Regions from separate parts of the Homo sapiens genome. Here region 2 is linked to region 1. Evidence: fine-mapped expression QTL. A gene starts in region 1. The other region holds a variant in brackets. All regions are shown on one strand. Distances are between the middles of the regions.

Evidence for each region. PIP is the estimated chance that this variant, and not a neighbour inherited with it, causes the effect.
Region 2: its variant is the best candidate, but not a certain one, in a credible set for the expression of GOT1-DT in cerebellar hemisphere (GTEx, PIP 0.72).

The regions. Positions count from the first base shown.
Region 1 is chr10:99,429,288-99,432,200 of GRCh38, reverse strand. GOT1-DT (GOT1 divergent transcript) reads right to left here and starts at 1,265. Exons shown (of 5, transcript NR_183993.1): 1 at 936-1,265. GOT1 (glutamic-oxaloacetic transaminase 1) reads left to right here and starts at 1,577. Exons shown (of 9, transcript NM_002079.3): 1 at 1,577-1,753. The coding sequence starts at 1,636. RefSeq lists enhancers at 997-1,426, 1,607-1,656, 1,677-1,736.
Region 2 is chr10:100,097,268-100,100,180 of GRCh38, reverse strand. No RefSeq gene overlaps it. Among named protein-coding and RNA genes, the nearest start is that of CPN1, 17 kb to the right of the region's middle. The variant C/T (reference allele first, on the strand shown) is at 1,683.

The DNA.
Region 1 (2,913 bases):
TTATCCTAAGTGAACTAATGCGGAAGAGAAAACCAAATACTGCATGTTCTGACTTGTAAGTGGGAGCTAAACATTGAGAACACATGGACACAAAGAAGAGAACAACAGACACTGGGACCTACTTGAGGCTAGAGGGTGGGAGGAGGGAGAGGATCAGAAAAAATACCTGTCAAGTACTATGCTTACTATCTGGGTGACAAAATAATTTGTACAACAAACCCACATGACAAGCAATTTATCTATAAAACAAACCTGTGCATGTATCCCGAACCTAAAATAAAAGTAAAAAAAAAAAAAAAAGCAGTTTACCATCTATGAAGGGTGTGGCAGATATGCAATGTTAATAATAGCTGACATTTAGAGAGTCCTTCTTACATGCAACTAACCACTTCGTAAATGTATTAACTCACAAACTCCCCACACCAACTCTGAGGAAAATACTATTATTTCCACAGAGCAGGAACTTCCACAGAGAGGTTAAAATAACTTGACTAAACCTGCCCAAATTCGTAAGCGGCAGCCAGAATCTAAACCTAGATAGTCCGGTCCCGGAGATAGGTTTTTAACCACAAAGGCATTTTCTAAAATTGTGAAAGTACAGAAGCACAGGAAAGAGACATTTTGGCCAGATAAGGGTTAAGGGAAGGCTTCATGGATGAAGTGGCATTCGCTCTGGGTCTTGAAGGTCAGCAGATGGAGAGGGCTCCTGGGGAGGAAGGACTCTAACGGGGAAGGAACAGCCTGACGAAGAGGAACTTTGGGTACCAGCCAGCTGACGACAGCAAGATCTGGTCCGGTGCGCGCGGGAGGAAGCTGGGAAGGGACGTCGCGCCCAGATCCCGAGGTCCTTGAGGACCAGGCCCTCTCTGCAAGGAATCGGGGAGGAAAATCTCAAACTATTAATAGAAGAGCGGCAAAAAGGAATTCGTGCGCACCCCTCTCTGTTGGAAGGACCTTCCCTGCCAGAGACCAAGGCTGGCAGGACAGGTATACTTCCCTCAGGGGGAAACAGCCGACAAAGGTGGTCAAGGTCGCCCGCGCAGGCTCCGGAGCTGCACGTCCTGGACGAACACTCCCGTCCCGAGCACAGACGCTGGGTATTTGGCTGCCAGCCCGGGCCCGCCAGGCCGGGCCTGGCACCGCCAACACCTGCTCGGCGGGAACAGGAAGACCTGTGTTCGGGAACTCCCTCCGGCCACCTCCCCGTATCCTCCTGGCCCTCGAAGGTCGAAAGGTGGCCTCTCAGGGACACCCGCCGCTCGCTCGGCTCCTCCCCTCAGCCGGGAGACCCAAGGAATAACAGCCTCTGCGATAGGAGCACGCTCTACCAATCAACCGTAGTCTTCGCCCACGCCTCAGCCGGAGGAAATTGCATTGGTTGCATCATTCTCGGCAGCCGATAAATTGTTTTCTTGGATTGGCTAATAGCGTTCCTTCTCCCCTGTGCCTTCGTCGTCAGAAGCTGGCGATTGGTTAATCGCGTTGCCAAGCTTTGGACGCGGCTCGACCATTGGAGGCCGCGGGCCCGCCCCCGCCGGCTAGGTGAAGGTGAGTGTCTCCTCCAGTCGCAACGGCCAGACCTGACCTGCCAGCTCCGGGCGTGGGGTGAAATCTCTTGATTCCTAGTCTCTCGATATGGCACCTCCGTCAGTCTTTGCCGAGGTTCCGCAGGCCCAGCCTGTCCTGGTCTTCAAGCTCACTGCCGACTTCAGGGAGGATCCGGACCCCCGCAAGGTCAACCTGGGAGTGGGAGGTAAGGATGTAGTGCTCTGGAGTGTGAGCAGCTCGGGGAGTGGAGCGGACCCAACCCAGGTCGTGGAGACTGTGGGAGAAGCCGAGGCCCAGTGTGGCGCTGCCTGAAGAGGGCGGCGCCGGAGAGGAGGCTGGATCCACGAAGGCTTCCTAAAACCTGCCCATTTTACAGATGCAGGTGTGGAGTCCCTGGAAAGGGGCGATGTGTCCGAGGCCGCACAAACCAGGTGTAGCAGCCAAGACACAAACTCAGTCTTTCCGATTCCCCATTCTGCCTTCTTTATACTGCATCCTCCTAAGAAATGAGGCTGCCGGAGCTTGTAGAGAGAGGTAGAAAAATAGGAAGCCTGATAGGCTTAGGGTTCTGGTTGCTAGGAAATGGGTAAAGGAGAACTTTTAACGCTAGAAAGCTCTGTTCTGAGTCGGTAAATATTTGAGTGACCACCGAGTATCAATCAGCCACCTTATTAAGCTTTGTAGGGGGAGACTGAGGCTTGATTTTGCCCTTAAGGATTTAAAAATCTGCTGGTGTTACACAATGCTTTGAGACAGGTTAATGCTGCCCCCGGGGGGTCTGGGGAGATGGTTCTGGCCGTCACAGATGTGGTAGGAATGGGTAGAGATGGTGGAAAGGAGTGGAGAGAAGTATGGATGGTAGAAGCTTACTTTCCACACATCCTATCTTCATTTCTTGATTCAAGTGATTCTCTTCTGTACCTTGGACAGCTCAGAGCATGGGCCTCAGTTTCCCCATCTGCCAAGAAGATTTATATTGGAGTGCCTCTCAAATTTTTTACCCCTAACCCTCTCTGATGAATTTGTTATTCTTCTCACTATCATTTGGATGTTTGAAGCCCCACAGACACTTATTTTCTCCATTTGGATTTTGCCACGTGCAAAGACCAGCCAGAGAGATGAAAATGGGTAGGATAAAGTCTTATGCTAGGTAATAGACTTAGAATAAAAGGACTAGAAATTGTGGAAAGAGAAGGTGGAATCATTTTGTAGCAGAGTGTGACATGAAGGACGCTCAGAATCAGGTTTCTCATAGATAACGTTTTGTCTGTGCATAGCATTTGTTAAAAAAAAAAAAAAAAAGTCGGCCGGGCGCGGTGGCTCAGGCCTGTAATCCCAGCACTTTGGGAGGCTGAGACGGGCGGA
Region 2 (2,913 bases), 670 kb before region 1:
GCACTTCAACCTGAGCAACAGAGCAAGACTCTGTCTCAAAAAAACCAAAACAAAACAACACAAAAAATTAGGTGCAGAAAGTATGGGAAATCCCAGAAGGGTTACAAAGCTGTGTTTAGAAGAAAACATGGGCTAGGAACAATGGGTCACACCTGTAATCTCAGCACTTCGGAAGGCCAAGGTAGGTAGATTGCTTAAGCCTTGTAGTTGGAGACCAGCCTGGGCAACATAGTGGGGCTCCATCTCTACAAAAAGTTTAAAAACTGGCCAGGCATAGTGTTGTGCACCTATAGCCCCAGCTACTTGGGAGGCTGAGACAGGTGGATTGATTGAGCCTGGAAGGTAGAGGCTGCAGTGAGCTGTGACTGTGCCACTGCATTCCGGTCTGGGTGACAGAGTGAGAATTTGTTCCAAAAAAAAAGAAAGAAAAGAAAAAAGAAAACACAAGAATATTTATTCTGGCAAATTCGAGGCAAAGATAGTGGGAAAGGGGAATTTTGAATTCACTTCCAACTCTTGAAACCAACTGAAAGCCAAGAGCAAAAAAATAAAAAAGAAACTTCTACTTTCAATAAACAGGAGAAAAGTTATAAAACAAAACCACGGAGGATGACTGCTGAATGAAATGAATTTTGATCCAAAATATGTGAGGATTCAGAGCCAACACATCCTTGTAGAGACTCTGGGAAAGAGATCAATTTCCCTAAGATGAAGTGCCGTGCTCCCGAGAAACGCATCAAGGATCCTCTGTGGGTGGACTGACAAGGTCTAAGGTCTGACTAAGGGTGGGGCAGACATGGCCACTGTTCTGCAATATCATTATCTCTATTGTAATGGAACCTATGGTTTTTAGATGGGATAAAGACTGTATTTATCTGCTTCCCTTGTACATAGGCATGGCCATAAGTTCTAGCCTATGGAATGTAAGTGAAAGTGGCATGTGAAATTATGGAAAGTGTGCCGTTTTTTAATAGCTTTATTGAGATATAGTTCACACACCACACAATTCCACCATTTAAAGTGTACAATTCAATGGCTTTTAGTATATTCAGAGTTAAGCAACTATCACTACATTTTAAGATAATTTTTATTATCCCCAAAAGAAACTTGGCACCCCTTATCCACCATCTCCCAAATCCCCCAATGTCCCAGTCCTGGGCAACCATGAGCCTACTTTCTGTCTCTATAGATTTGCCTATGCTGAACATTTTCTATAAATAGAATCATGTACTAAGTGGTCTTTTATGTATGGCTTCTTTCACTTAGCATAATGTGTTTGAGATTCATCCATGTTGTCACATGTATATTATTTTATATCTTTTGGTTGTTAAATTATATTCTGCATTTTGAATAATGGTGCTATGAACATTTGTACGAGTCCTGTGTGGACATATGTTTCCATTTCTCTTGAGTGTATACCTAGGAGTAAAATTTCTGTGTGATATGGTTCTATGTTTAACATTTTGAGAAATTGCCAGAACCGTTTTCCAAACTGGTTGCACCATTTTATGTTCCTTCCAACAGGTGTGTGAGGATGGGAATTTTGATTTTAAAGATCCTGGCTCCTTTTCTTTTTAAAATCAAAATTCCCATCCTCACACACCCATTGGAAGGAACGGCACTTTGGGAAGCTGAGGTGGGAGAATCACTTGAGCCCAGGTATTTTAGGCCAGCCTGGGCAA[C/T]GTAGTGAGACCTCCGTCTCTACAAAAAGTTTTATAAAATTGGCAGGTGCACCTGTAATGTTGGTATGCACCTGTATCTCTGGCTACTTGGGAGGCTGAGGCAGGAGGATCACTTAAGCCTAGGAGTTAAAGGATGCAGTGAGCTATGATTGTACCTTTGTGCTTCAGCCTGGGTGACAGGGCAAGACCTTGTCTCAAAAATAAAAGGAGAGAAGGTGAGCTCCTTGCTGGTGGCTGAAATGTGAACATGCTGACAAGGCTGGAACCATCTTGGATAGTTGGTGAATATATGTTGAGCCTGGCAGAGCAACAAGCTAAAAGGAGACTGCACAGCAATGGCCTTGAACTGCCTGCTTCCAAACTTCATTTACGTGTGACTAAAGAAATAAAGCTACAATTATATGGGGCTTTCTCTCACTTAAAGCTGAATTCTAATCTTAACTGATATAGGTTGTTGGGGGATAGGGAACACCCCTGGAGAATTAGAGACAATAGGGAAAGACACTCAAGAAGGCAGAACCAAGAGGGAGGTGGCTAAAGGAAGAGCCAGACTGACAACACCATTTTATATCTTCCCAAACTGTCTGTCTTAGTGAGGGGGGATGAAGGAGGAGGGACTAGAATCATCAGATTACAACACAGAGCACCTGAGTAAAGCAGGTTGTTTTGAGCCACACCAATGTCCTGAACTCTAGTATCTGAGAAAAGACATAATAGCATAGAGCCCAAGAAGCATGGTGACAGGTGTTTGAGAAAACAACCCGAAATGGCATTGGGGATGACTCCTGCTCACATTCCTCACTCCGCTCTACCCTATTTTTCTTTTTCTTCCTTTTTATTTTTTTGAGACGGAGTCTTGCTCTGTCACCCAGCCTGGAGTGCAGTGGCGCAATCTCGGCTCACTGCAACCTCCACCTCCCGGGTTCAAGCGATACTCCTGCCTCAGTCTCCTGAGTAGTGGGGACTACAGGCACACACCACCACGCCCAGCTAATTTTTTTTTAGTAGAGATGGGGTTTCACCATGTTGACCAGGATGGTTTCAATCTCCTGACCTTGTGATCCACTCACTTCAGCCTCCCAAAGTGCTGGAATTACAGGTGTGAGCCACCGCGCCTGGCCTCTACCCTATTTTTCAACACATCATGATCCAGACAGAAACTCCCCTGTTCAAAGATGAGGGATAACCAGAAAGGGAGACACGTGGAGATGCTTAGGAGAAAAGAAGATAC